Linked DNA regions of Homo sapiens. The protein of the gene in region 2 purifies or fractionates together with the protein of the main gene of each other region. This does not show direct contact. Each region holds a gene or a part of one and is shown on either strand. Other genes may lie near its edges.

Region 1 (7,671 bases), on a different chromosome or scaffold from region 2:
AAAAGAAATTAGAGTTAGACTTGATGTTTGCCTTTGTTATAGCTACGGATTATTTTTTTTTAAAGTTCTTTAGCTTGGAAGTGAAAGTCTTTTATGGGTGTTTGTGCGGATTATTCCTAATTAATTGAATGTGCCGGGTGACTTTAATTTCTCTTCTTTAGGCTGCGATGGATAGTGCTCGGCTTAGTGCTGCCAAATCTTCTCCAATGATGGAAACAATCAACATGGTGAGTGTCTTAAATAATAATGAGAGGGTTTGTTTGCTTACCTGAAAGTGTAATTCTTCAAAGTCTTCAGGCTATGTTAAATGAAGCAGAGACTTATGGGATGAGTCAAGCAGCTGTTGTGACTCCAGTTTTTTCTTAGTATATTTCTCTTTTCTTCTCTGTTACTAAGTGGAATAAATAATTCCCCAAATACCAGAAACAGTTGGTCCAAATTTGTATTACAAGAGACAACAACATATCAAGAGCTCTCTATAAATTTACATCTGTAGTCTTTTGATCTGCCTATTTAGAAAGGTTCAGAGTTGTGCCTGTGCCTAATAGTTATCTTTGGGAGGAACTAGGAAAGTTATAAGCTGTGGAGGTATTTAATGAAGTAGGTAACATAAAGGTATGTGAAGAGATTGGGCAATGTCGATATGTTGTTTTAGTCATAGGAAGGCATTTGCAGTAAAGGGCTGCTTGGCATTCTGAGGTTCTGATTTCTAAACTTCCTGGAGTCTTGGTAAAGTTACTCTGTTGTGCATTCCCTGTAATGGTTAGTTAGCTATGATTGTGTTTACTGGAAATTAGTTTGCTAAGCAGATCTGTACCTTTAGCAGGACTCTGAAGGTATAGATCCAACCCCTAAAAAAACTGAAGTGTACAAAAAACTATGTTAAACTGGTGAAGAGAAGTAGCTATTTTTTAGTGCCTGCTGGGGGAGTATTACCAAAATTTGGTCTAAGAATGTTATGTCTTAGTTGGATTATTGGGGGGAAATAAAAATTTAAAGAAATAGGAATAGTTAGTGAATACCATTTAGTTATATTCATTAGTAATAGAAAACATGTTAATTGCATTTTCAAAAATAAAGGCCAGCAATTTATAGGAAAAGTCATCTAAGAAGTTGACTCATTAGAGGGGGTTTGGTAGGGTAGGCCCACTGTAGAAGATCAATATTTAGTTTAGGTTTTTTATACTAAACATGGATTGATAAAGAGGAAGTAGGCCCAGAAAGATTCTTCATTCTTGAGTAATCATTATTTTTCTTTTTTAGCAAATTGATGTTTTTCATTTTTTTGTTTGTTTTTAGTGTTGAATCACTGATGAATAATTTTTCTGTTTGTAGTACAATAGTGGTTTTAATATTGAAATCAGAGCAGAAGCAAGCAGTGATTTTTCAACTTCATGTCAAATCCAGTTGGTACACGTTTGACAAGGGCAGTTTTTAATTGAAGATGTGGTCCTGACTTATTTGCCAAGGCTTACCTTTATATTTGTCCTTTTTCAAAAGTGCCTGCAATACCTTGATGTGTCAGTGCTGGGCGAGCTAGTTCCTAGGTTGTGTGAACTGATCAGAAGTGGTGTAGGTCTTGGAACTAAGGTAAGTGTACTTTCCACAAGAGGAAATGTGCATCTTCATTAGTTCTGGCCATAAGGATATAACAGCCATCATGTTTGAAATTCATGTTTTACCACAAAATCTAATATTATACACTAACCATTTTATTTCTGTGGTTGCACTGATAACTGAAAACATGTAACTGGTTCAAGAAATAAAACATCTAACTGTTCCAGTAAGTATTAACTTATTTAGTGGAATCATTTCTGTTCTCTGGTTGCCGTGTACATACCCTCTGGGTTGTCATTCATTAGCAGTTCATGGAAATGCACATCCAGTTATTAGGGCATGGATTGTTTTAGGTGGCAATTGCATTTTTCACAGAGGGGTCAGCAGTGTTTGAATAGAAAAATGTCCTAGTTTTCAAGATCTTTGAAGGATCAGACACCCCCCTACCACCCTTTTAACAACAAATTAATAACTCACATTTTTTCTTATGACAAAATTAACACTTGCTGGTATTTTAAAATTTTAGCATTTATAGATTAGGAGAAAGTTAAAATAAAAATTGTCCAGAATTTTGCCATACAGAGATAACTGCTGTTAATATTTTGAAGTGTTTCCTTCCAGTCTTTTCTGCACATGTATCTTCTGCAGTGTCCTCTTCTAATGGCCGTATGATACTCCACTGTATGGATGTAACATCATTTATTTTACTCCATCAAGGAACATCTGATTTGTTTTCAGTTTTTGAAAAAAATAGTAAAGCACTGTGATGAGTGTCTTCAGGCACACCTGAAGATATTTGGTTAAATTTCTGGAAATGGAAATGTTAGCACAGTGATGGACAAGATGACATATTTTGCTTTTCCAGAAGATTGTACCAGTTTTCTTTCTTTTTCACAATGTCTGAGATCACCCATCTTTCTCTTGGAGGTTTAAAAAAAATCGCTGCATTACTAGTTTAAGAGTTTGCCTTTTTCTATATTGAGTCCTGGAGGGGGTATTAGGCTTCATGTATTTTATATGTTTAAATTTTTGGCACCTAAGCCAATGGTTTGGTAGGTAGAACATTGTGACCATCAGATTTAGACCTTTGCTTTTGTAACCCTGTAGGGTGGCTGTGCCAGTGTCATTGTGTCATTAACTACTCAGTGTCCTCAGGACCTAACACCTTACTCAGGTGAGTTTGTCAAGGGATGTGTGGTGATATTTTTGCACAGCCCTGTCTTGTGTGACAGAGTTTTAAAAAGGAAAAATACTTATCATTCAGACCTGCTTGTGATGCTGTGTGCCTTTTCTCCCCTCAGTCCCCTGACTCCTTCATTTCTTTGTCTGCAGGAGGTGCAGAGTTTATCAAGTTTAGCAGCTTTTCACTGTTCATAAACATTTGATTATTCCTTAGTGGTATAAGGAGGTAAAAGTATCCTCTTTTCCACAGGACTTACCATTGATAGCTGATTTTACATCAGCATTTTTCTCTTCTTAGATTGGCTTCTAGACTGGACTAGTGTTCTTTATATACCTCGTTCTTATTTTGCATCTTTTTCCACGATATTCTAGTTTAATTTTAACTTTATATCATGTAAAAGGAAGCAAATGGATATATAAATATAACATCCAGAAATCTAAACTACTGTGGAGTAAATCAGATGTTAATTACAGGGTTAGGTTTGTTTGGGTTCTGGGAACAGAGTGGAACATTTGGTCAACCAAGTATCAGATTTTTTTCTCTTTATTTCTGGTAGGTAAACTTATGAGTGCTTTGCTGAGTGGCCTGACAGATCGGAACAGTGTGATTCAGAAATCTTGTGCATTTGCTATGGGCCATTTAGTTCGGGTGAGTTAAATTTCTTGCTTAGTTAAATAAAACTCTTTGACAGTTATAAAGAAATACTTAGGATTGTTTCTTTTTCAGACCTCACGGGATAGCAGCACTGAAAAACTCCTGCAGAAGCTCAATGGGTGGTATATGGAGAAAGAAGGTACCTTTCTTTTTCTATTTTATGTCATTTTAAATTTAGATGTTAACAGCCCAGTAAAACAGTACAAATTAGGTCTTACCCTCCATGATTTTATGTGATTTGCTAGAAACATTTGTTTCTTTTCTTTTCTTTTTTTTTGAGATGGTGTCTGGCTTTGTCGCTGAGGTTGGAGTGCAGTGGTGCTATCTCAGCTCACTGCAACCTCAGCCTCCTGGGCTCAAGCGATTCTTGTGTCTCAGCCTCCTGAGTAGCTGGAACTACAGGCACGTGCCACCACGCCTGGTTAATTTTTGTATTTTTTGTATAGGTGGGGTTTCGCCATGTTGCCCAGGCTGGTCTTAAACTCCCGAGCTCAAGCTATCTGCTCACCTTGGCCTCTCAAAGTGCTGGGATTACAGGTGTAAGCCACCACAACCCAGCCTGCTAGAAACATTTCTAATTGATTTTACCTGTTTGTTTTGCTATTATATGAGTTGAACAATAGCCTGTTTAGATCAGTTACCCTTAAAAACAATAAATATCGTAAAGATTTTGGTTTCTCCTTTTCAGAACCTATCTACAAGACCTCTTGTGCTTTGACTATTCATGCTATTGGACGATACAGCCCTGATGTATTAAAGAATCATGCAAAAGAAGTCCTGCCTCTGGCATTTTTAGGCATGCATGAAATTGCTGATGAGGAGAAATCCGAAAAAGAAGAATGTAATTTATGGACCGAAGTGTGGCAGGAAAACGTACCTGGTTAGTAGTGTGGCCTGAGTTAAACCTGCTTCTTAGGAATCACAGCTAGAATTTTTTACTTGCATTCGTTATTCATAAACTCCTCTGAAGTTACTTTCCCAGGACCTTAATATGCATCCCATTTAGTTTTAAACCCATCCAAATTGCTCATCCCATTTAGTTTTGAACCCATCCAAATTGCTGAGTTCTCAAGGTTGGCACTCAGGATTTTTGTCTTTACTCATTCATCACTGCCCACATGAGAGAATATAAACCCTGTGAGCAAGGAGAGCTTTACATTTTTAATTAAGAGTGTGATTTTATGTGGCCTTAGAGTATTTTAGAGTAGTTTTCTAAATGTGTTTTTCACCTTGTCGCATATTAATTGATGATGCCCATTTGTGTGATACGTTCCTGTGGGCACCCAAGTTCGTAAAGTTCTACTATTGTGAGAATAAGTCACAACACCAACACACTTTCTCTCCCTTTGAGAGAGTGGTGTGTTTTAACAGTTGAGAGTCACTGCTTTTAGACTGTTGGTCACTGACTTTTTTTCAGGTTTAGAAAAATCAGTTAATTTTTCTTGTCACTTAAAAGTTGTTTTAATTTTGCTTTCCTAGGATCCTTTGGTGGCATTCGATTATACCTGCAGGAGTTAATTACTATTACCCAGAAGGCTTTGCAGTCTCAGTCCTGGAAAATGAAAGCCCAGGGTGCAATTGCCATGGCATCAATTGCAAAACAGACTAGCTCTCTAGTACCTCCATATCTCGGAATGATACTGACCGCATTGCTGCAAGGCCTGGCTGGAAGAACGTGGGCAGGAAAGGTAAAGGAACCATTCATACCCAGTTAAAGGGATTCTGACTTCATCTTTCATTTTGCATAATAGTAACGATCTGGTTTTGTGTAACTTTTCCAATGGATTATTTTTGTGAACTAGATTTCCTAGACAGTGGAAGCTTTGGGTAAACCTTGCCTGATTAACTGTGGTATTTCCTCTCAAACTGCAACCCGTGTGGCCTTGCATAATGGACAGTAATGCTGGAGATAGATACATTTTCCATATTCAGCCTTCCAAGTTACGTCTTAAACCAACTTGTCAGCATTTTGTACCTGTTGACCTCATGAACAGATCAGGATTGGGCATAGAAAGATCAGGATTGGGCATATGTGAAATAGAGTAGCAAGGTAGCCTGCCTCTAAACCTGGGGCTGAAGATGCCCATCTCTGGGACCTATGAATTAGTAACAGTTATTTTTTTACACAAGAGCTTTAGTAGGATTCTTAACAGTGAACACTCAGTGGGGAACATGAGATTGTGGTAACCTAATGATCTTTATGTTGTAAAGGTCAATAGTGGCCCATGCAGGAATGAAGTAGTACCGGACTGGGAGTCAGACATCATTCCAATTCTGTGGTTGACACTGTTTTCTGTGAGACCTGGGTCGAATCAGTTCTTTAGGCTTCTATGAAATGGAGGTGAAGATAATTATCCTACATCCATGGTTTGGAGTAAAACTTGGTGGATGTGCTTAAAATTATGCATTAAAGATAAGGTGACTGTTGTTAATTTTTGTTGTCATAGTTATCAAAAATTCCTAAGGTAATTGTAATCATGGTTTAGACAGTGTAAATGACATGTTTGGGCTTAATAGTATTTCCTCATCTTTCAACCCCTTAGGAGGAGCTATTGAAAGCCATTGCCTGTGTGGTGACAGCTTGCAGGTAAATGTTCTTTCAATGAAGATGCCATTTCTTAAACTGGACCCGAAAACTGCAGCCTTTATTAACTTCTGATGCTTTTGTATGGACCCTGTAGTGCAGAGCTGGAAAAGTCTGTGCCCAATCAACCCAGCACAAATGAAATTCTTCAAGCTGTTCTGAAGGAATGTAGCAAAGAGAATGTCAAATACAAGATTGTAGCAATCAGCTGTGCAGCTGATATCTTGAAGGCCACCAAAGAGGACAGATTCCAGGAGTTCTCTAACATTGTCATACCTCTCATCAAGAAGGTAATACCACCTGTATCCTCAGTTCTGGTTTATACTTTAAAAAGAAAAAGTTAAAAAATTGTTTTCCCCTATGTCCTGATTATTAGGATTAGTTTAGCTGCAAGTAGCAGAGAAATTCCAAAATACGGCCTTAAACAAGATAGTCAATGCTATGTTTCTCACAAAGCGTTGGGAGCATCACAAAGTGTTCAGGTATTCCGTCTCTTTACAGCTCTGAACTCTGCCATTTCTAGGGTGTGGTCATCATCCTCATGGTCCACAGTGTGTTTGTGTTCTAGGCAGGAATGCAGAGGAGATGAAGCAAGGATGAAGGATACAGTGGGCATGCCATGTCTCTCTTGAGGAGAGTTCCTGGGCACCGCTAGATGGCACTTTGACTTATAGCCATCCTGTTGGTCAGTACTTAGCCACACCTGGCAGCAGACTGAGTCTTCATTCTGGGTGTCCATTTGCCCTCCATGGGAGAAGGGGAGAGTGGATTTGGTAGTGAATGAACAGTTTATGTCATAATAAGCTTTGCCTTGGCTAATAAGCTAAGCCACCCCAGCCATCCTAGAGTAAAGGCAAGAAGCTCAGTGTGCCATGTGAATTGCCTCTGCCATATAGTGGAGGATTTGGGTCAAAAAAAGACTCAAGTTTCATGTGGAAAATGGAATACTCATTTTTAAAAGTTGGGCACTGGTCCCCCCCCCAAAAAAAAGGGTGTGGTTTCCCTGTTTATTTGTGAAACATGAAATATTTTAAGTAACATTCTTATTTCTTATTGCTCCTAAATTGCAGTTGTTTTCTTTCAGTAATAAGGCTATTTAAATAATTTCCATTACAAACATAGTGATAGCATATGGATTTGGGAGACTTGTGTTTTAAGTTGATTACATCACTAGCAAGCTGGACCAGTTGCTTCTCTTAGCCTCTGTTTCTCTATCAAGAAAGAGTTTGGATTTAGATCATTACTGAGTTTCTTCCATCTTTAAAATCTGATTCTAATGCAAGTCTTTTCATGTTATGCTCAAAAGACTACATATGCAGTATTTTTTAGCTTTTGTTTACAGATGCCTGTAAAGTATTGCCTAAATTTATTAGAGATACAGTATTCTGGTTATAAATTCTTGTTGTAAATAGGGAAACTTATGGTAGAGAATTTATCATTTAACTCTTGGTTAATATCTCCTGCCTTGGTTGGTACCCTGATAGCTTTAATAGTATACCTGTAACTTTGAAGAAGAAAATATTACATTTTCTTTTCTTTGATATATCCTAGAACTCACTTGAAAGCAGTGGGGTCCGGACAACCAAAAATGAAGAGGAGAATGAAAAGGAAAAGGAGCTCCAGCTGGAATATCTGCTGGGTGCCTTTGAAAGCCTGGGCAAAGCCTGGCCGCGAAACGCGGAGACCCAACGTA
Region 2 (7,671 bases):
GTTCTTTCGCTTTATCTCACAGCTACCCTGCAAAAATGGTATTATCATTCTCATTTTCCAGGTGGGGAAACTGAGACTTGGAAAAGCTGAATAACCTGTCCTGGGTGCAAAGAAGGCTAAGTGGCAAAGCCAGGAATTCAGCTCAGATGGCCCATCTTCAGGCTTTTGTGCCCCTGGATGTCACCTGTGCTCTGTTCCACTGGGCCAGGTTTCTAGGAGGCCAAGTTTAAAGGCTTGAGTCTGCCCTTCTTCCCTAAGCACCCAGGAGAAAGGCATTTCTGACCAGAAGTCTTGGATGCTTTTAGAGACATGTGGTCATCAGCCAGGCACATTTTCCTCCCAGGCCTCTGACTTTCGGGGCCAGCACCCTCCGTTCCCCTCAACATTCATGCCCAGGTGACTGAGAGGTCCATGGCCCCAGGCAGCACTACATGGCCGGGGTGCTCAGCTGACCCACAGGGCTATGCCCTTCGGACAGGCAGCTGTCACTCACCCCTCAGTGCCGGCTCTGCCCAGCAGAACAACAGCCCATGCTAAGCTTGGGGGAGAACGCCCATTGCCTAGACGGCTTCTCACCTGCCTCCCTCTAAGGAGCAGGGTATGAGGAAAGAGGAACAGGTAGAGGGCACTGGGGTCCCTGCAGCTGGGTTCCATTGTGGAGAAACCCTGAGGCTTTGGGGAAGGATTGCAACTGTTCGTCTCAGTGCTGTGACCTTCGCACTGTCACCTGAAGCTGGCAGGCAGGAGCCATGTGTGCTCTGGCTTCATGGCCCTCAGCAGCGTCACTGCTTCCCCTTGTCCAAGCCAAATGACTGTCGTGATGGGGACCATCCAGCCCCAAAACCTTTTCCCCCACTAATCCCTCTGCCTGACAAGCTCTCCACATCTCTGTCTGCTCCTGCCTCCTCCAGGAAGCCTCGCCTGATTGCCTCATTGAGAAAAGCCATGGATTCTGATTCATTCTGGGCTCAATTTCTGGCCCTCTCTCACCTACTTGCTCTGTGATGTCTGCTGTTATCTCACCTCTCTGACCCTCCGTGTTCTCTTTTTGTGATATGGAGCATGAGAGGAGGATACCTCACATAATCCGAGTACCTAACCTGTGTGTTGAGTGCAGTCTCTTATTTAACACACCCTTCCACTCCAGACACTCTTGTGGAAGGATATTTTGATTCTCTTGTCACAGATAAAGGCCCTGGGGCTTTGGGAAGTGAAGTGACATGCCAAAGTTCGTGCATCTGGAAAATAGTAAAGCCGGAATATAAACCCAGGTTTTCCTGTCTCTGACATTCGGCTACAATTACTCTTTCAGTCATTGGCAGTTGAGGAGCTGTTTCCTGACCAAGTGGACAAGGGGCACAGGGGCCAGCCAGATGGAGGTCAGTGACAGTCCTAGGCCGAGGGAAGCTGGCTTCGAGGACACAGCTTTAGGGACTTCCCCAGGGACTCCCCACATCACATCCCACAATGAAATTGACTTCCCCAGACACAGGCAGACTGGAAAACGACATGGGCTTCTCTGCCTACTCCCACCCCTGTGCCCCGCTGTGGATGCCTACCCCTATGAAACCCACAACATGGAGACACAGAGGAGTCACCTTCCATGCAGGTTGCCTCTGAAGGAGGAGAAGGGCTGTGGTGACCATATCCATCCAGTTCCTTCTCCCAGACTCCCTGTTGGAGGAGTCCACCATAGCAAGGAAGATTCGGAGGAGAGTGCTCGTTATTAATGCTGTAGGTGCTCAAGAATTGTGACTTTCTCTCCCTCGCTTTTTCCTTTCTCATAAAGAGCATTGCTTCAGGGCTGTGGCCATAAAGAAGGTGGCCCAACTGTCTCAGGGTCAAAGCCGGTTTTTAATCATGATGCCATTGCCGGTTCCCAGTGCCACATTCCCCTGTTGTGGTTAGAAATGGAATAATAGCTCTCTCTCTCTCTTTTACCCTGGACTAGGGTTTGGTCATTGAGCACCTGGGACGGAGACCCCTCCTCATTGGTGGCTTTGGGCTCATGGGCCTCTTCTTTGGGACCCTCACCATCACGCTGACCCTGCAGGTGAGACGATGTTCTTGTCACATTTGAGGGAGATAAGCATGGAGCTGACTTCTGGCTTCATCGTTTTGGGGCCTTTGATTTGTGGGTTCATACTTCTACAGAAAACACTTGTGATAAAGCTCTCCCCGGGGACATCTCATCTCTGGAGCTGCTGAGGGTCTCAGTGAAGAGGGTTTGGTGAGGGGTCCTTGGACTGGGAGATGAGAGACCTGACTTCTGGTCCTGTCACTCTCACTGATGAGCCGTGTGATCTTGGGCAAGACACTTTCCATCTCTGAGCCTCAGTTCACCCATCTATGGAATAGAAGAGCTTGCACTAGACAACCTTAAGGTGCTCCTTCCAGCTGTCACCTCCCAGCATGAGTGCCAGGTGCTGCATATCAGCCACTTCCCTAGTTGTCACAATTTTAGGAACAGTGGCTCTGGAGCCAGACAGCCTGTGTGGACCCTGGCTTTTCCTTACTTGTAATGAAACTTTAGCAAGTCAGCTCCTCTCCGGGCCTCATCTCTAAAATGAAACAGTCGTCCCTTCATCCAGGGGTGTTGTGGGATGAAATGAGAAAATGCACTGAAAGCACTTGGAACAAGCACTCAGTGGATGTCCATGAAGGAGGAGGGGTGGCGATGTACTTCATCCTTACAACATCAGTATTTTTTTGTTTTATGGAGATAAGGAAACTGAGGGATAAATATAAATAAATAAGCTTCCCAAGGTTACACCACCAAAAGGTGGCAATTAGATCCCCGGATCCTGGGCTTCTGCCCCCTGCATGGCTCAGGGCAGCTTGCATTAACTGAACACTGCCTCAGTACCTCCAACTCATCTTGGTGCCATGGGAAGCGTGAAGCAAGGTTGCAGCAATTGATTAATCTTTGCATTTTTCAAAAATGCATCTGGAAATTGATAGGTGCACATTTTGATCACCTGTCAAATGTCTTAGTGGCCCAAATGTTTCTAGAAGAAGGCACTGTTAGCATGGTGGTGGCTGATGGGTGCCCTTTGAAGAGGTGGGGCTGGCAAGCACGCTGACCGGCAGGAGGTGGAAGCATTGCCTTCAGGGACAATGTGCTGGCAGATGCAGTTCCTTCCTGACAGCCAGGCCCAAGCTGTCCCAAGCTCCAGCATCTTTACAGTCCTTCAAAGTTCTCAGGAAGCCAGTTAGGCGATGTTCCAGGCCATTGTCTTTCTGAAACTTGTGTCCGAAGTTTAAAAGGAAAGCCTGAAGCCCACAAACCCCATCTAAGCCTCATTTCACAAGGTTTCAGAGCTGTTCTTGGCTTGGCCACCCTTGTCTCCTCCAGTGCCCCACACCCTGCCCCCGGCAGCTCCTCAAGGAACCTGGCAGTTTCCTCTCCTAGGGCTCTTCTGTGCTTGGCTAGCTTCTCCTTGCTCTGGACTCAGGAGGCCTTGGACATTCCTGGACACCTCTTCCTGCAGGAAGCCTCCCCTTGCTTCCAAGTCTGGGTGAGGTGCTCTCTCCTGTGTTCCCATAAGCCCCAAGGGGGAACCCTGTGAGATCACTTATCACATACCATTGACTTTCACTGTTGGCACATGTCTCTCTCCAAATAGACAGTGAGTGAGTTGTGTAGGGCAAGGGCCTGGCATGAACCATATCTGCATTTCCACCTCCCATCCCAGTGCCTGGCACCCAGGGGCAGCTCGGATCAATCAGCTGAATTAGTGAGTGAGTGAGTGACTTGGTACAGAAGCAAGCCATACAGTGTACAAGAGTCCATGAAGCTCCTCTCAACCCCTAAAGCTAATGGATTTGGACATAGAACAAGGGGAAGGAGGGAGTTCCCCATTCCTCTGTCTGCCCTCTGTACCCCTCGCCCTCCACTCCAGACTGTTTGCAGCTTACCCCCCCGCCGATGGTGCCCTCTTAGGATTCTATGCCCTTGTGTATGCTGAACCCCCTACTGGAACCTCTTTCCTTTCCTTTCCCACTGGGCTGACTCTGGCTCAGCCTACAGAGATGAACGCAGGCTCTTACCTTCCCTTCAAGTCAGGTGGCCTCTCCTGGGGCAGCCCTGGCACCCCCACAGATTCAGAACTGGTGACACTGTGTTCTAATGCTCAGCTGTCCAGTCTGCTAGAGCAGGAGCAATCCCAACCAGCACCAAGCCACCCACCCCCCGGATGAGTGACAGCTTCTCCAGACATATTCCATGAAATGAATTAACGCATCTCACACCTTGCAAGATGGCAGGGGTACAAATAAGGTCCTTTATGTAATAATATCAGAACTAAGATAACTTCTTTTAAGCAAAATATAGAAGCCTTTAAAATGTATATGAGGAAACATTCATATATATACATATATATATATATATGTATATATATACTTTAAGTTCTGGGATACATGTGCAGAACGTGCAGGTTTGTTACATAGGTATACATGTGCCATGGTGGTTGGCTGCACCCATCAACCCATCATCTACATTAGGTGTTTCTCCTAATGCTATCCCTCCTCCAGCCCCCCACCCCCCAAAACAGGCCCCAGCATGTGATGTTCCCCTCCCTGTGTCCATGTGTTCTCATTGTTCAACTCCCACTTATGAGTGAGACATGTGGGGTTTGGTTTTCGGTTCTTGTGTCAGTTTGCTGAGAATGATGAACTTTTATAAATGTGATAAAGCTGTGAAAATTGCTCATATTGCCTGATGCCAACTAAGCCCTCAATCAATGTGAGTTATTGATTTATTTACCACTTCCTGTATGCCAGGACTATGTCAAACTCATCACAGGCTTCATCTGATTTCATCATGGCTATAAAATAAGCAGATGGAGTGACCGAAGGGTTATCATTGTTCCCATGTTATAGATGCTGAAGCTGGGGCTTGGGGACATCAAGTGACCTGTCCAAGGTCACACAGATGGATGGAGGAGGAGCTGGGGTGGGAACTCAGGTCCTCCGGTCACACCATCACCTCCTCACCTGACCACTCCCTGTTCTCTCCCAGGACCACGCCCCCTGGGTCCCCTACCTGAGTATCGTGGGCATTCTGGCCATCATCGCCTCTTTCTGCAGTGGGCCAGGTAAGGCACCCCACCCTCCCCACTGCCCCGCCCAGGGACTCATGGCATCACCAAGCTGGGGGGCTCTCCTCATACAGATGGGGAACCCAGAGCCCAGAAGAAGCAAAGCCTGACTGGGGATGTGTGTCTGCTGCCTTTCTTTTGGCCCAATTTAAATGTAGCCGACTGTCTGCAGTCTATCCCACAGAAGGTGAAAGTGGACTCACCTGAAGATGAGTGGGAGATAATTTCCCACCACACAGCAAGAGCAGTTCATACGCGGGAGGGCTCTGATCCAGAGGTGACACTGGTTTGTGTTGAATCAAAGACAACCAAGTCACAGTCTGTGCCTAAGCAGTTACCGTCTATGGTGAAAGATGTGGCAATAATCATGTCTAAGACATATTGTTCATTGATTTTGTGTTATACTTGGCTAAGAACTTGACCTGTGTGAGCTCATTTAAGGCTCAGGACAGTGCCAAAGAAGACAGAGATGGAAGGTGACTTGCATGAGCGAGTAGGTGGAGTGGCCTGACTGCCAGGCCCAGGCCCCAACCACCAGCTTACATGGTAGCTGTGTGAGTGTGCAGCTGGAGTATCCCAGCCTCAGTTTACCTGGGACTCACTTCTAGCCCTGCTGTTTCCTAGCCATGGGTCAGTAGGAGAGACTTCTTCTCTTTGTTAGCCTCAGTTTCCCCATCTGTACAACGACAAGGATGCAATGCAACTGAGGACCCTACCATTCCCTGGCCCTGTGTCCACGTCCAGCAGGGACCTCCAGCAGAGTCCAAGGTCAGACTGAGAAGGGGGGCTCAGGGCAGGGTCTGACACAGCCATGTGCTCTCTCATGGGATGATATTCATGGCTGTTCTTTGGTTGTGTTTCTTGGTGGATGCAAACAGTAAGTTTCTATCAGAACAAAGGGAACTGAACTTCTGTTTCTCCCTTTGTGTTGCTGATTCTCGTAAGCCATTACATTCCAGGTTCTATTGCATTCATGGTGGATGGAAAGTGTCCATTCAGGACATCGGGATATTATAATAAGATGGCAAGGTGGCAAGGTGGGCCATGGAATGGTTGGGGAGGGCATCAGGTGCACATACATGCACACAGCACACACACACACACACACACACACACACACACACACACACACACACACAGTGCTATGAGGGTGGTCAGAACGGCTGCAAGAAAAAGAAAGCAAGCACCTCCCAGGCAGGGCAGCGAATTAGAGGATGAACACACAGCACATGTTGTAGTTTACAGTGGACGCGAGGAGTAAATGTGTTTAGTCTTCCAGGGCATCTGCATCACAACCTCACATCCACATCTTCACATCAGTGCTCTGGAGGTGTCCAGCCTACGGCCCTATGCTAGCCTGGGGACATGCGTGAGCAAACCAGACAGGAGCAGTCTCTGCTCCCAGAGGGGCTTGCCTCTGGTGTGGAAGTCCCCTCTGAGATGTCAGCTGCTCAGTGAGGCCTCTCCTGGCCACTTATTCTAAAACCAGCACACACACATTTACTATATACACTCACACACACATGCACACCTACCCTCTATCTCATCACCCATCATAGCATTGTTCACAGGCATGTTGGTTTCCTGCGTACTCATTTGTTTAATGCAGACATGGGAAGATTTTTCCTGCAAAGGGCCAGGTGTAAATACTTTTATTTCACAGACCATGCATTCTCTATCACAACTACTCACCTCTGCCATGGTAGTGTGGACACAGCCATAGATAACGAGTAAATGAATGGACTGCATGGTTGTGTCCCAGTAAAACTTTATTTACAAAAGCAGGCAGTGGGCTGCATGCGGCCTGTGTGCTGCAGTCTGTCTTTAATGTGTGTCTCCTCCAGGCTAGAAAATAAGCTCCATGAAAGGACCTGGTGTGTGGTTCACAATCTTATCCTGATAACCTAGAACTGTGCTGAAGACATAGTAAGGCTCCACAAGTACTTGTTAGAGAGGGAATAAAATAACTGAGCAAAGGCTGGCAGGGAAGATGTGTGCTTTTGTGAGCAGCGTAACACGGGAGCCTGCCCTGGCAGCAGGGTTTTTCAAAACAAACCTTGGAGGAGAGAAGAAGTGGAGAGAGCAGACCCCTTTTCCTGCAATATCCCTGAGCTCCAGGGAAGAGGCAGCTGGGGCTTAATGATATCAGAAAAATATGAAGGTGGCACTAGCCAATTGCATGGAGCAAAAGGATTAGTCAAGCTAATACCAAGATTCTTTTCAGAGAAAGAACAAATATAAGGTTGAATTCCATTCTTATCAATTTCTCAAGCCTTTATTGAGCACCTGTTGTATGCCAAGCTGGAGGGAGAGGAGAGCAGGGGTAGGCAGGAGGAAGATAAAATAGAACCATATTTTTTTTCATGGGATACATGTTGCTTTTTTATTTTAAGTTCCGGGATACATGTGCAGGACTCGCAGGTTTGTTACATAGGTAAATGTGTGCCATGGTGGTTTGCTGTACTTATCGACAGCAATTAAGGTATTAAGCCCAGCCTGCATTAGCTATTTTTCCTGATACTTTCCCTCCCTCCACTCCCACCCCAGACAGGCCCCAGTGTGTGTTGTTCCC
Region 3 (7,671 bases), on a different chromosome or scaffold from region 2:
CTGATAGCTTCTTAATATCATTTAAATATCTAGTCAGATTTTAGATTTCTCTGATTGTGTCATGAATTTTTCTAGTTTGTTTGAATCAGGATTCAACTTGCATCAGCTCCCTTTCCATCTGTTCCAAAGTTATTTCCTTGCTGTTATTTCTTGAGGTAACAGGTAATTTTCTGTACTTTTTCATGTTTTGAATTTGATTGCTTGTGTCGCCACATGCTTTTTGTTAACATGTTCTTTAGTCTTCACACTTCTCCTCCCATATTTCTTATAAGTTGGTAGTTAGATGTAGAGGTTTAGTCACTTTCAGGCTTTTTTGTGGGGGATAGGGCAGGGATGGCAAGAATACATTATAAGTATTGTTCTGTATTGTATGACGTGCACACATGCAATGTGACACACAATGTCTGGTTGTCTCTTTTTCTCTTTTTTAAATTATACTTTAAGTTCTAGGGTACATGTGCACAATGTGCAGATTTGTTACATATGTATAATTGTGCCATGTTGATTGGCTGCACCAATTAACTTGTTATTTGCATTAGGTATTTCTCCTAATGCTATCCCTCCCCCATTCCACCACCCCACGGCAGGCCCCGGTGTGTGATGTTCCCCACCATGTGTCCAAGTGTTCTCATTGTTCGATTCCCACCTATGAGTGAGAATGTGCGGTGTTTGGTTTTCCGTCCTTGCGATAGTATGCTCAGAATGATGGTTTCCAGCTTCATCCATGTCCCTACAAAAGGACGTGAACTCATCCTTTTTTATGGCTGCATAGTATTGCATGGTGTATATGTGCCACATTTTCTTAATCCAGTCTATCGTTGATGGACATTTGGGTTGGTTCCAAGTCTTTGCTATTGTGAATAGCGCCACAATAAACATACGTGTGCCTGTGTCTTTATAGTAGCATGATTTATAATCCTTTGGGTATATAACCAGTAATGGGATGGCTGGGTCAAATGGTATTTCTAGTTCTAGATCCTTGAGGAATCGCCACACTGTCTTCCACAATGGTTGAACCAGTTTACAGTCCCACCAACAGTGTAAAAGCATTCCTATTTCTCCACATCCTCTCCAGCACCTGTTGTTTCCTGACTTTTTAATGGTCGCCATTCTAACTGGTGTGAGATGGTATCTCATTGTGGTTTTGATTTGCATCTCTCTGATAGCCAGTGATGATGAGCATTTTTTCATGTGTCTGCTGGCTGCATAAATGTCTTCTTTTGAGAAGCGTCTGTTCATGTCCTTTGCCCACTTTTTGATAGGGTTGTTTGATTTTTTCTTGTGATTTTGTTTAACTTCTTTGTAGATTCTGGATATTAGCCCTTTGTCAGATGAGTAGATTGCAAAAATTTTCTCCCATTCTGTAGGTTGCCTATTCACTCTCATGGTAGTTTTCTTTTGCTGTACAGAAGCTCTTTAGTTTAATTAGCTCCCATTTGTCAATTTTGGCTTTTGTTGCCATTGCTTTTAGTGTTTTAGTCATGAAGTCTTTGCCCATACCTATGTCCTGAATGGTACTGCCTAGGTTTTCTTCTAGGGTTTTTATGGTTTTAGGTCTAACATTTAAGTCTTTAATCCATCTTGAATTAATTTTTGTATAAGGTGTAAGGAAGGGATCCAGTTTCAGCTTTCTACATATGGCTAGCTAGTTTTCCCAGCACCATTTATTCAATAGGAATCCTTTCGCCATTTCTTGTTTTTGTCAGGTTTGTCAAAGATCAGATGGTTGTAGATGTGTGGTGTTATTTCTGAGAGCCCTATTCTGTTCCGTTGGTCTATATCTCTGTTTTCGTACCAGTACCATGCTGTTTTGGTTACTGTAGCCTTGTAGTATAGTTTGAAGTCAGGTAGCATGATGCCTCCAGCTTTGTTCTTTTGGCTTAGGACTGTCTCGGCAATGCGGGCTTTTTTTTGGTTCCAAATGAACTTTAAAGTAGTTTTTTTCCAATTCTGTGAAGAAAGTCATTGGTAGCTTGATGGAGATGGCATTGAATCTATCAATTACCTTGGACAGTATGGCCATTTTCACGATATTGATTCTTCCTATCCACGAGCATGGAATGTTCTTCTATTTGTTTGTGTCCTCTTATTTTGTTGAGCAGTGGTTTGTAGTTCTTCTTGAAGAAGTCCTTCACATGCCTTGTAAGTTGGATTCCTAGGTATTTTATTCTCTTTGTAGCAGTTGTGAATGGGAGTTCACTTATGATTTGGCTGTTTGTCTATTACTGATGTATAGGAATGCTTGTGATTTTTGCACATTAATTTTGTATTCTGAGACTTTGCTGAAGTTGCTTATCAGCTTAAGGAGATTTTGGGCTGAGATGATGGGGTTTTCTAAATGTACAATCATGTCATCTGCAAACAGGGACAATTTGACTTCCTCTTTCATTTTTTTTTTTTTTTTTTTTTTTTTTGGAGACAGAGTCTTGCTCTGTCGCCCAGGTTGGAGTGCAGTGGCGTGATCTTGGGTCACTGCAAGCTCTGCTTCCTGGGTTCACACCATTCTCCTGCCTCAGCCTCCTGAGTAGCTGGGACTACAGGCACCCGCCACCATGCCCGGCTAATTTTTTTTTGTATTTTTAGTAGAGACAGGGTTTCACCGTGTTAGCCAGGATGGTCTCGATCTCCTGATCTTGTGATCCACCCGCCTTGGCCTCCCAAAGTGCTGGGATTACAGGCATGAGCCACCGCGCCTGGCCGACTTCCTCTTTTCCTAATTGAATACCATTTATTTCTTTCTCTTGCCTGATTGCCCTGGCCGGAACTTCCAACACTATGTTGAATAGGAGTGGTGAGAGAGGGTATCCCTGTCTTGTGCCAGTTTTCAAAGGGAATGCTTCCAGTTTTTGCCCATTCAGTATGATATTGGTTGTGAGTTTGTCATAAATAGCACTTTTTATTTTGAGATATGTCCCATCAATACCTAGTTTATTGAGAGTTTTTAGGATGAAGGGCTGTTGAATTTTGTCGAAGGCCTTTTCTGCATCTATTGAGATAATCATGTGGTTTTTATCTTTGGGTCTGTTTATGTGATGGATTACGTTCATTGATTTGCGTATGTTGAACCAGCCTTGCATCCCAGGAATGAAGCCCACTTGATCATGGCAGATAAGCTTTTTGATGTGCTTCTGGATTCGGTTTGTTTGCCAGTATTTTATTGAGGATTTTCGCATTGATGTTCATCAGGGATATTGGTCTAAATCCCTGATTGTTCATCAGGGATATTGGTCTCTTTTTTTGTTGTATCTCTGCGAGGCTTTGGTATCAGGATGATGCTGGCCTCATAAAAGGATTTAGGGAGGATTCCCTCTTTTTCTATTGATTGGAATAGTTTCAGAAGGAATGGTACCAGCTCCTCTTTGTACCTCTGATAGAATTCGGCTGTGAATCTGTTTGGTCTGGGACTTTTTTTGATTGGTAAGCTATTGATTATTGCCTCAATTTCAGAGCCTGTTACTGGTCTCTTCAGAGATTCAGCTTCTAACTGGTTTAGTCTTGGGAGGGTGTATGTGTCCAGGAATTTATCCATTTCTTGTAGATTTTCTAGTTTATATGCTTAGAAGTGTTTACAGTGTTCTCTGATGTTGGTTTGTATTTCTGTGGGATTGGTGGTGATACTCCTTATCATTTTTTATTGTGTCTGTTTGATTCTTCTCTTTTCTTCTTTATTAGTCTTGCTAGTGGTCTGTCACTTTTGTTGATCTTTTCAAAAAACCAGCTCCTGGATTCATTGATTTTTTGAAGGGTTTTTTTGTGTCTCTGTCTCCTTCAGTTCTGCTCTGATCTTAGTTACTTCTTGCCTTCTGCTAGCTTTGGAATGTGTTTGCTCTTCCTTCTCTAGTTCTTTTAATTGTAATGTAAGGGTGTTGATTTTAGATCTTTCCTGCTTTCTCTTGTGGACATTTAGTGCTATAAATTTCCCTCTACACACTGCTTTAAATGTGTCCCAGAGACTCTGGTACATTGTGTCTTTGTTCTCATTGGTTTCTTTTTCTGTGGCTAAGATTGATGAGTGATCTATCAAATTTCCTCAGCAGCTTTTCTCTTATTTTAACAGCTGTTGATCATCATTTGCCTAGATCCATTATTTGATCAGGAGTTACACAATGATGGCATTCTAATTCTGTTATTCCTTTTGCATTTATTAGCTGAAATTCTTCTATAAAGAAGACATCTCCCTCCTTAGCTATTTGATAACATTAAAATATAATTCATATGGGAAAGGGAAGATAATATTTAAATTCTTTACCTTAGTCTATTACTTTTAAAGGTCTATTGTATATTTAAGCGTTTTGTATCATATTCACCCATTGTTATAAAATTAAGTATGAATTGAGTCTGTTTTGGTTTCTGTATTGAAAATAATAGAAAGTTCTTATTATCAGATATAATCTAACATAATCCTCATTATATGATGTGCCTCAAGAAGAGTTATGATAATGTAAAACTGAGTGAACATAGACTCCACACTAAGGTTCAAACTGCTAAATGATTATTAGTAAAGTTATAATTGGAGTGATTATATTCCAATATGAATTTGGGGAAAATACATTTTAATTTTTATTTATTTATTTTTCTACAGCTTTTGGACTTCTTGGATCAGCATCCTTTTTCATTTACTCCTCTAATTCAGAGATCACTGGAATTTTCTGTAAGCTATGTTTTTACAGAAGTTGGTGAAGGCGTTACATTTGAACGATTCATTGTCCAATGTATGAATCTTATTAAGATGATTGTCAAAAATTATGCTTATAAGCCATCCAAAAATTTTGAAGGTAATTCCTTTATTGGCAGTTTAAAAGAATTATTTTAATCTTAAGTGTGATATAATTGCTATAATTACAAACTTTTTAAAAAATGTCATTTTAGTCTGAAAAATAAATTGTTGCTGGGACATGAAAAAGATATAAGGATTATAGGCTTTAGTATGTTTATACTAGCTTTTAAAAACAACATAGTGCATTTAATAAGCCATTTTTTGTAGCACAAATTGGTTGAAGCTTAGGGACTTTAAGAATTAGGTACTATAGTCATCACTGCAGCTCATATTGTAGGGTGTATTCATTTGAACAAATAAAAGCTTTCTCTGACTTTATATAAAGTGTGATTGTTTCTAGACAGGTTAAATTGTTGTATTATTTGGAATTCATTCATATGCGTGTGTGCCAAGATGAATGAAGAAGTCTTGGTGGTGGGGGAGAGAGAAACACATGCACACACCCCCCACACCCTCTACATTATGAGGAAGTTATTTCAGTATGCCGTGATGGTATTGCATGGTAATATATAAGCTGTAATGCCAGAGGCAAGATTGATGTGAGTGTGTTGTAAGGAAAGAGTATCTTTGAGATTTGTTTATAATAAAAATGAAAATTTATACACAAGTGTATCTTCTTCCCTGAGAGTGTATTTTTTATTTATTTAAGTTACATAATCCAATGTAGCTACAATGTTTGGCTATACAATTAACTTGGAAATTTCATTTTTCTAGATAGCAGCCCTGAAACTCTTGAAGCCCATAAGATTAAGATGGCATTCTTCACATATCCTACTTTGACAGAGATATGTAGAAGATTAGTCTCTCATTATTTCCTATTAACTGAAGAAGAACTGACAATGTGGGAAGAAGACCCAGAAGGCTTTAGTAAGAATTAATTTTTTAGTGTTAGAATGACTTTTCTCCCCTTTCTATAAATATCTGTTTGAGTGATAGGTATAATATTGTATTTTCATACAGCACTTTTGATCTGGAAATCTTGGTGTTTTAAAATTAACTTACTCTTTCGTTGTTATCCATTAGAACAAATTGAGAAGCAGAAAATGAATGACTTATGCAAATATGTTGTAGAATTTTGTCCAGGAAAAGACCTTTTTAGTTTTTGGATTCCTTTACAAATATATCATGTAGTTTCAAACAAAAATATAAAATTAACTCTCTCTTACCCTGTCAGTTTCTATTTTGTGATTCATTCCATGTTATTTTTTATTTGTAGAAATTCTTGCAAAGAAATTTGGAGGTTTTTGATGAATAGTTTTTTTTTTTTTTTTGGACAGGACATCTTTATATCTGTTTGAATTTTAGTACTAGATAGATAAGTAGAATAAGTCTGTTGGGACCCTTGCTATAGAAAATCAAGGAATCATGTGTCTAATAAAGTACTTACTTGTATGTGAATTACTTAAGCTATGGTGGGACATAGGCTAGATTTTAGCCTCCCTTTTCTCTTTGGTTGTGTACCCTTGTGTAGTTACACGTTTCCTAATATTTTAAGAGTGCCCAAAAGTTTTTGTAATACTTATCTTCGCCATGCTTTTGGTTTTTAAAAGTAATTTTAGTTTTAATACAGGATTGTACTGTACAACATGTCTTTTCTTGTTTTTTTTTTTGCTTTTTTTGAAACATCTTTTTTCAATTTGCTTTCTTTATATAGTACATACAACATTGTAACATAAAGTGTTGAGTCCCTAAATTTTTAAGAGCCCTGAAGTATTTTTCTTTAAATTCAAGAAATTTATGGAGAGTGTGAGTAATCATTGTACCTAGTGAAACATGATTACTGTATTGAAATGAAATGATTCTCAGAATTCTAGTGATATTGGATCAGGTGATAGCAGATACCCTGGAAATGACAACTACTTTGAGCTTTTTTCCATAAAGAATTTTTATCGAAAATGAGAATGCTTATGGATATAGTAAGCACTTAATAGACGACTGTGAGATACACAACTGTGATCTGTAGCATATAGTAACAAAATCTGTGTAAGGCCTGTGTTCCCAAGGCTTTGCTCTTAATGTTATGTTTAAAAGAGTTCACAAAAATATTATACTGATGTTATTAAAATCTTTGTTTTCTAAACCAAGATGTTGAAAATGTCATTATTACATATTTTTAATTGCAGCAGTGGAAGAAACAGGAGGAGATTCTTGGAAATATAGTTTGAGGGTAAGTATTAATTGCAAGAAAAATTGATAGGGGAAAGCTTAATCTTTCTAAAGCTCTTAGTAGAGAATGACACTCTATTAAAGATTCCAGACATTTGCTGGGCATGGTGGCTCACACTTTAATCCTAGCACTTTGGGAAGCCAAGGTGGGAGGATCGCTTGAGGCCAGAAATTCAAGACCGGCCTGGTAAACATAGTGAGACCCTGTCTCTGCAAAAAGTAAAAAAAGGAAAAAAAAATTAGACCAGAGTGGTGGCGCATACCTGTAGTCCCAACTCTTCAGGAATCTGAGGCAGGAGGATTGTTTGAGCCCAGGAGGTTGAGGCTGCCGTGTGCCATGATGATGCCACTGCGTTCTAGCCTGGATTACAAAGCAAAACCCGTCTCTTAAAAAAAAAAAAAAAAAAATTAAAGATTCCCAACATTAAGTCAGACAGATAAGAAACTGTTTATAAGAAACTAAGAACTATATTCATATTAAATTATGACGTTTAATCTGAGTTTTTTTTCTTTTTTCTTTTTCTTTTTTTTTTTTTTTGAGACAGAATCTCACTCTGTTGCCCAGGCTGGAGTGCACTGGTGCATCTCGGCTCACTGCAAGCTCCGCCCCCTGGGTTCATGCCATTCTCCTGCCTCAGCCTCCCGAGTAGCTGGGAATACAGGCGCCCGCCACCACGCCCAGCTAATTTTTTGTTTATTTAGTAGAGACGGGGTTTCATCTTGTTAGC
Region 4 (7,671 bases), on a different chromosome or scaffold from region 2:
GGTCTCCCTCTAGCTCATGTTGCCCATATTCTAATGCACCCTTCAGGCTGCCAGCAAAGTCCTATTACAAAACAGAAATCTGATGATGCTACTCCTCTGCTTAAAGTCCTTCACTAGCACGCTAGCGCCAAGAGGAACAAGACAACAAAAAGTCCTTTACATGGAGAATAAGGCCTTCTGTAATTTAGATCCAACCCAATGCTCTAATCTTACCTCCTGTTATTCCCCCTCCACTCTAGCCTGCCATGCTGAACAAGTGCTCAGATGTCCTCCCTTTCCTCTGCTGCTGCACATGCCATTCTCTTAGTCTGGGATGCTCTTCCTAAAGGTTCCCTTGTCAAGTTCTCATCCAACCATAACCACTTAACATTCATAAAATGAAACACTTTTCACTAAGCTAAACATAATCCCCCTACCCCTAGAAGCTCTCACTGTAATGGAAGAAACACAATTTTAAAGAATTATAATACTAAAACTGTGACAAATAGATGTATTCACAAGGTAAGAAAATAACACAGTAGAAGTAACTAACTTAGATGGTCATAATATATTTCCTGGGAAAGGTGACTCTGGAACTATTTTGAAGAACAATTATATCTTTTATAAACAATAAGAAAAAACATGCAAGAGAGGAAGAAGCCATACTAAAACACAAAAGCACAAGACAGTATTATATAATAAATAGTTCTGCATTGTTGGAAAGTGAGGTGAGACAGAAAAGTGGCAGGAAATGAAGCTTAGAGTCCAGCAGATCCAAATCATGAAGGTATTATCATACCTTCAAAGCAGCTTTGGTTTTATTCTCTAAGAGAGGGAAAAAATAGACTTTCATTCAAGAAAGGTTACTCTAGTTAAGCATGGGAAAAGACTGAAGAATGAACAAAACCAAAGAAAAAGGTAAGCCAATTGAAAGATTATACTAGTTGAGGAAATAAATAATCATGATTTGATTTGCAAGAATAGTGGTGGGAGATCGAGAAAAGAGTACAGATTGCAGGGATATTAGGAAGTATAATCAACAAGTCTTAGTGACAGATTAGATTCGAGAATCTAATCCTTTGAGGGGAAAATCTAAGCTAACTCCCAGGATTTTAGCTTATAAATTTAGTAGCATGCTGGGGTTACTACCATAAATAAGAAATACAAAAATAACAGGCTTCTCTATTTGTCTTTTGTTTTGGGTAGGAGAACTAAGGGGCTGATGTTGGAAAAGGGCTGAGGAACAGAACGCTGGCAATGCTAAGATGCACGCAGGAAGAAAGAAAAAACAGCCCACAAGACTGAGACGGCATAGTCAAAAAGGTAGGAGAGAAACAGGATAGACTGGTGTCATGAAACAGTTGTAGACAAGTATACTAGGAATACAGTTCCATGAAAGCATTCTCATCAATGGCTGTATTAAGTAGAAAGCAAGTCTAGCTGCTGAGAGAAGGACTGGGAGACTTCCACTTCGAAGCCCTCTGACTACTCCTTCTCATTTCTCAAGTACTTCAAAATAAGTACCTTGGCAGTACTTACTCTGTACGACACTCTTTTATAAACATTTACACAGTACTATTTTTAAAAATTGCTCATGTTTAGAATGCAATCTTGAATACAAGGACCAATGCCTTCATGGTGCTTGGCAATAGTCCCAAGTACCAAATATGTGTTTACTGGGTGACCAGCAGAATTTCAATATGCATATTTGTTTACACACACTAGACCAAGAGCCTCTCAGAAGGAAGGGCTTTTCCATGTATCTAGTTTCCCCAGGATCTTGCATAATATCTGGAAAGATGAGACTTTAATAAATATTGACTGAACAATTAGAATTAATGCAGTAGTGACAGCTATTTCCTGAGGCAATTTGGTAAGATTTTGTAATTTTAAAATAGAATATGTGTACATTTTTGTTGAACTGTTTTTCATATTAACACTGGAGAAAAAAGACACCTGAACATTCACTAAAAGGCACTGCTTAAGTATCAGGAAGAAATGCTTTACAGAAGTAGCAAACCAAGTAAGCACACAGGGGAATTTTTAAGTTTATAATAGTTAGATTCATGGAGACGGCAAACAATTTCATTTTTCCTTATGGCATCTCTTTGAAAAAAAGAGATGGGCAACAAGAGAAAGGAAGGCAGCATGGTGACATTCACAAAGGAAATAGTCCAGGAGCAGGCAGGTATCACAAAGCTTAGTGGGAAAACTGACTTCACAAGATTAGGATCCGGTACACTAGCCAGGCTGGAAGAGAGGTGATCACCTCATCAACATATAAAAATGAAATCAATAACAAGAATAGTACATTTGTAAGCCAGCTGGAAAAAATGTAAGACCTATAAAGGAGTACTGATAGCTATTAGAAGTTTCATATTTTAAATGTTTTGAGTTGTCACATGATTAGAAAATATAATGGGGGGATGTCATGAGCTAAACAGTGCAAAATTGCACAGATGATACCCATCAACAGCACTTATAATATGGTGACAAATTAATTTATATGACAAGAGTGGTTGGGCATTACAGGAATCTAGTTGGGCTAGACTGCAATGAACAAGGGGGGCTGAATAGGAGCCTCGTGAATTAGATCCATGAGAACTATCCTCCATTTTACTCATTATAAGGTGATAAACCCACGGCAGGGGTGGCACTATACTGGCAGAGAGATATTCAATAACATTTCTCCTTAAGCTATGACACTTACAAATCTATCCCTTGTTCTATTATTTCTTTTTGTTGCTTTAGGACCTCAAATTGTTCTGGATTATCAGTGCCAGACATCTGTGTACTGTAGCTGCCTATTCCTGATGATGATGTTGACTCCAGGGAATTTAAACTTCCGTATCTGTTTATTGTCTCAGGGTGTTTGATTTCACTCATCTCTTGCTCTGAGGGTTTTTCCTGACCTGAAAGAAGAAAAATTGATAGAGTACATTATTCTATCAAAGAAAAAAAAAAGTGTAAGGGCAAACAAATTCTTGAATAAGGCAAGGCGTTTCAATGTTGCTTAGATATCTATTTAATACAAAATAACTATTAGGTAACATAGTAAACAACATACTTTGATATTAAAACACACTGTAATTTGTACGTGTATAGTCTGCACCATTAGGAGGAGTTCTTTTTGCAGTTGCAGTGCTGAGTATCCACTGGATTTCTGCTCTCAGCTCACTCCTCATGAGGAATTGTTTTCGATAATACCAGTGTAGCCCTGCAGCTATGAGTTTTTCTCTGAGTGAGGGTAAACATCAAACACAGATGAACAATTCAACCTTCTTAAAACATACTGCCTTTTATATGTTTCCTCTATAATTATAATACAAGAAAGTTGCATAAATATGCTTCATTTTACATAATCAAAATATTTCTAAGAAGATTTAGAAAAAAATAGTTTGGATAACTAAGTTAAAAATCTCACAATTTTAAAGCTAGACATTTAACTCACAGAGAATGTTTCCTCATCAGTTAAATGAATAAATATGTCATGAAATTGGTTTAACAGCAGCTGCAACTATCCTCCAAAGTATTATTCACTTAAAATGACAAAGAATTACAGCTCAAAATATCACCTTACCAAGAGTTGTCTGGGAGTTGGGATTCACATACTGATCCTTACTCCATTCAACCATACACTTCAAAATCGACACTAAGCATTCTAAACCTTTTTTCCTCAGGCTCAATTCCTACAAAGTAATTCAAAAACAAAATTTTTTTTAAAGGTCTTTTAAGGAAAACACATGACTCTTTCCTGGTAAAGTTTAAATTTGAAAATGTTTTTATAGTTCTTACCTGAACATTACTCATACCAAGTTCTTGACTGCCCCTTCCTTGAGCAATTTTTGATAGATCATTTACTAGTCTTTCAAATATATTGGCTGCATTTAAGTCACAGTCATAGTTTACATAAATATCCACTACACTCTGAGCATCTGTAACAATATAACATTAATTTCAACAAAGTACATCTAGGATATGAGTACATTTGGCCTTTTAAATATCTAATAATAAGAAAGAGATAATAAAAAGGATAATTTAAAATACCTGCACAAATCCTCGTCAGTGTCTGAATAACCATCCATTTGTGATCAAATGAGCTGGTAGAAGTTTCCAAAATGTATAAGAAAATTTCTTTAAAGAACACCTGTGATTAGGAGAAAACTTCTGTTTAAAATATTGTTTAGAATTCATATGTGTGATCACTTTTTAAACATCCCAGAGCTATAGAGCAGGTATTAGGACCCAGGCTCTTATGGAGTTCAACTCCTTTTGAGTTCCATCTCTGAATCCTCAGGACTAAAATATCTTGGGTAAGTGACTTAAACTTGCCCTTCTAGTTATCAGTACTGCAATTCACATTGATGTGTTTTGTTCTCAACACAGCTGCTACAAAAGAAATATGCAAAGATTTAGAGTTCCTCTAGGTGATAATTTCTTTAACATTTTTACAGAATATAACTTACGCTTTTTTAATCCCCCTCCAAAAGCGTAATTTATACTTCTGTTCATCAGTTATATTTTTCAGAGACGTTCTAGTACTGAGAGGCCTAACTGTTCGTAGATTTAAATGTAACTGATACTCTAATCAACACAATAAAAACAATCTAAGTCTCATACGGTTTTATTTTTCTAATTACTCACAAAAGTGAAAATCTCTACTGTTTGAAAACTACATATGAACTATTTCTCACTACTCTTTACACCAAATAATCAAGCAGTGAGTTAATCAACCTAATGAGATAAATTTCAATTTAACAGATAAGAATTTTCAGATTTAAATGTATTCTATAAAAGTGACTTTAAGAAGGAATGACTGAAACAACCAACATATTAACATTTATGAAACATATGCATTATGAACCCAGAAAATCACATTTATAGTATCTCCCCCTAACTGGATTAGGTACCCCTGTAATGTGATTTTCTTTCACAAAACTCAGCATATTTCTATTTACTTGTTTAATATCAGTATCTCCTATAGACTGTAAGCTTGAAGACAGTAATGACCAGGTCTTTCTTGATAAAGATCACGTCCATATTGCAGGGCACATAGTAGGTGTTCAATAAATACTTATGGCAACATGGCCACAATTCCCAAAAACTGCATCAAAGTACCCCAGAATGCTGTAGCAAACTCATGAGGGTGCCCTGAAAAAATTCTGAGGCAAAATTCAGAGGGAGATACATCTGTTGGATACCTCAAAAGATTGCTCATGGTTTCAAATAAATCACACTACATTCCCTTCAATGACATAATTATCTCCGCAAAGCTGGGTTTTGGTAGTTGCTATGATAAAAAACCAAGTACTGAATGAAAATCAATGAAGTACAGGAATGAGGGGGACAGTATTCAATTCCAAGATCTAAGAAGCTGTGTGCAGTTTCTAATAGGCACACGCATCCCAGTGGTAAGTAATTGCGGTAAAGAATAAAATAAAAACATTATTTTTCTTTTACTTTATGCATACTATTGTCTTTGAAATACATAGTAGGCTGTGAAGACAAATATCCATTAAGTTGTTTGGCCCTGCCTGCTTAATAAATAGAACATAGAACTGGAGGTATTCCTCTGGCCAAAGTGCAACTTTCATGAAAAGTCAGACTTGTGAATCAAAAACTTTTGGGATCCTCTGATTGACAAAATAAATAATATAGACTGGAAGAGAGAGGGAAGAAAAAATTTTAGCTACTATCAATGGTTTATCAAATTGCACTAATAAGCAAAAGTCTATTGCTGTAATATAAGATATTATGCCTATCATAATAGGGGCTCTAAAAAAATCAACCTTTTAATAATTTATCGAGGACCTATAATGTATGTATGTGGAACAACAGCTATATCTTAAGTATGCTGTCTTCACATATGTTCTCCTGAAAAGTTGTACATAAACTGTATCTTCTGGAATAGATATATAATTTAAGACCCATGAAAAAATCACATCACAGAAACTCTGAAGTGAATATTCTCATAAAATGAATCTTCATGTAAAAACAATCTTAATTTTGTTTTGCAAATTTAGGTTTTCATAGCTGGGCTTTCTCCACGTTCAGCTTTTTTTTTTTTTTTTTTTGAGATGGAGTTTCGCTCTTGTTGACCAGGCTGGAGTGCAATGGCGCGATCTTAGCTCACTGCAACCTCGGCCTCCCAGGTTCAAGCGATTGTCCTGCCTCTGCTCCCAAGTAGCTGGGATTACAGGCATGCACCACCACACCCGGCTAATTTTGTATTTTTAGTAGAGATGGGGTTTCTCCATGTTGGTCAGGCTAGTCTCGAACTCCTGACCTCAGGTGATCCACCCGCCTCGGCCTCCCAAAGTGCTGGGATTACAGGTGTGAGCCACTGTGCCCGGTGCTCAACTCATTTATAATTTGAGTGTGTATAACATTTTTGAAAGTATATCTATATTTATCTCATTTTACCCTCATTATCGCCCCCTGAGGGACAATAAGGAGTGAAATAAACCTAATTTTTAAAAATTAGAATATTATAATAATTTTGTAATGAGAATCTGACATCTACAAATTGACAAGAAATTTCTTAAAGTTTTTCCTTTCAAATTCATTTTTGCAAAGTTGAATTTGCTGTGCAAAAATAGTAATCTCAACTTAAATAATTTTTGATATCTAGATCTAAGAATTTATATTTTACTGTCGGTAAACAGTACCTACAGAAGCAGAATCTCAGTGTCCAAAAAAATCTGTAATTGGTTACATAAAGTATTACAAAATTTTCTAATGCCAACTTAAATGTCTCATCATCAGATGAAAGACTTCTGGTTTTTTACAAAAGCAAAAGTTCTAAAAGTTTTTTTAACTGTCTTTTATTTATAGTTCCTACAGATAATGGGGAAAAACTATCTAAAAACGGCAACTCTTCCTAGTTAAACGCCTTGTATTATCTTAACAGACATATGGCAAACTCTTAAAACTTGACATCATACATCATATAGGCACCAAAAATGGTTTCCTGTCCAAAAATATGGCCCAAATTAAAAAGCTTTTCACTTAAAATACCAAGGCCTAATTCTGTTTCATTCTCATAACAATGCTCTAAATCAATCTTGATAGCTATTACAGAACATTAACATTAAAGGATAATATGACTATTTTAGCCATTTCGAAATTCTGGAAAAATAATTTATCCTTTCTAACAAGCTAGTGAATTATGAGTCTTGAGTTAGGATTAAATATAAAATTAACAAAAATTAAAATATAACCTGTATATCAAACATAATATGAAGGTAAAAACTGACAACATAAAAATGAGTATTTCAAAACCATACAACATCACAACCAAAACAACATTTCAACAAATAACAAATTGAAAAAAGCATTCATTAAATTGGTAAAACATAAAGTACTATTTTTAAGTTTTATTTGAAGATGAAAACAAAAAATCAGAAACTGGTACACCTTAAAAAAAAAAAAAAAAAAAACCACATAAAGCTGGGCGCAGTGGCTCACACCTATGCTCCCAGCACTTTGGGAGGCGGACGCGGACAGATCACCTGAGGTCGGGAGTTTGAGACCAACCTGACCAACATGGAGAAACCCTGTCTCTACTAAAAATACAAAATTAGCCAGGCGTGGTGGCACATGCCTATAATCCCAGCTACTCGGGAAGCTAAGGCAGGAGAATCGCTTGAACCCAGCAGGCGGAGGTTGTGCTGAGTCGGAATCGCACCATTA

What was found.
Region 1: the proteins of SLC2A9 (region 2) and ECPAS purify together in Homo sapiens (affinity purification with mass spectrometry; 2 studies listed by BioGRID and IntAct, with this or other methods). This does not show direct contact.
Region 3: the proteins of SLC2A9 (region 2) and IPO11 purify together in Homo sapiens (affinity purification with mass spectrometry; 2 studies listed by BioGRID and IntAct, with this or other methods). This does not show direct contact.
Region 4: the proteins of SLC2A9 (region 2) and ARFGEF1 purify together in Homo sapiens (affinity purification with mass spectrometry; 2 studies listed by BioGRID and IntAct, with this or other methods). This does not show direct contact.

The regions. Positions count from the first base shown.
Region 1 is NC_000009.12:111,369,032-111,376,702, reverse strand, and holds part of ECPAS (proteasome adapter and scaffold protein ECM29), read left to right. Parts: intron 1-161; coding exon 162-227; intron 228-1,500; coding exon 1,501-1,590; intron 1,591-2,664; coding exon 2,665-2,731; intron 2,732-3,296; coding exon 3,297-3,388; intron 3,389-3,466; coding exon 3,467-3,533; intron 3,534-4,082; coding exon 4,083-4,274; intron 4,275-4,873; coding exon 4,874-5,082; intron 5,083-5,937; coding exon 5,938-5,981; intron 5,982-6,075; coding exon 6,076-6,268; intron 6,269-7,529; coding exon 7,530-7,668; intron 7,669-7,671. UniProt on the Homo sapiens protein: Adapter/scaffolding protein that binds to the 26S proteasome, motor proteins and other compartment specific proteins. May couple the proteasome to different compartments including endosome, endoplasmic reticulum and centrosome.
Region 2 is NC_000004.12:9,884,992-9,892,662, reverse strand, and holds part of SLC2A9 (solute carrier family 2, facilitated glucose transporter member 9), read left to right. Parts: intron 1-1,951; coding exon 1,952-2,053; intron 2,054-5,020; coding exon 5,021-5,096; intron 5,097-5,760; coding exon of another isoform or gene 5,761-5,903; exon of another isoform or gene 5,904-7,671. UniProt on the Homo sapiens protein: High-capacity urate transporter, which may play a role in the urate reabsorption by proximal tubules. May have a residual high-affinity, low-capacity glucose and fructose transporter activity. Transports urate at rates 45- to 60-fold faster than glucose.
Region 3 is NC_000005.10:62,478,519-62,486,189, forward strand, and holds part of IPO11 (importin-11), read left to right. Parts: intron 1-4,582; coding exon 4,583-4,775; intron 4,776-5,491; coding exon 5,492-5,644; intron 5,645-6,900; coding exon 6,901-6,944; intron 6,945-7,671. UniProt on the Homo sapiens protein: Functions in nuclear protein import as nuclear transport receptor. Serves as receptor for nuclear localization signals (NLS) in cargo substrates.
Region 4 is NC_000008.11:67,263,317-67,270,987, forward strand, and holds part of ARFGEF1 (brefeldin A-inhibited guanine nucleotide-exchange protein 1), read right to left. Parts: intron 4,127-7,671; coding exon 4,027-4,126; intron 3,915-4,026; coding exon 3,775-3,914; intron 3,669-3,774; coding exon 3,560-3,668; intron 2,892-3,559; coding exon 2,690-2,891; intron 1-2,689. UniProt on the Homo sapiens protein: Promotes guanine-nucleotide exchange on ARF1 and ARF3. Promotes the activation of ARF1/ARF3 through replacement of GDP with GTP. Involved in vesicular trafficking.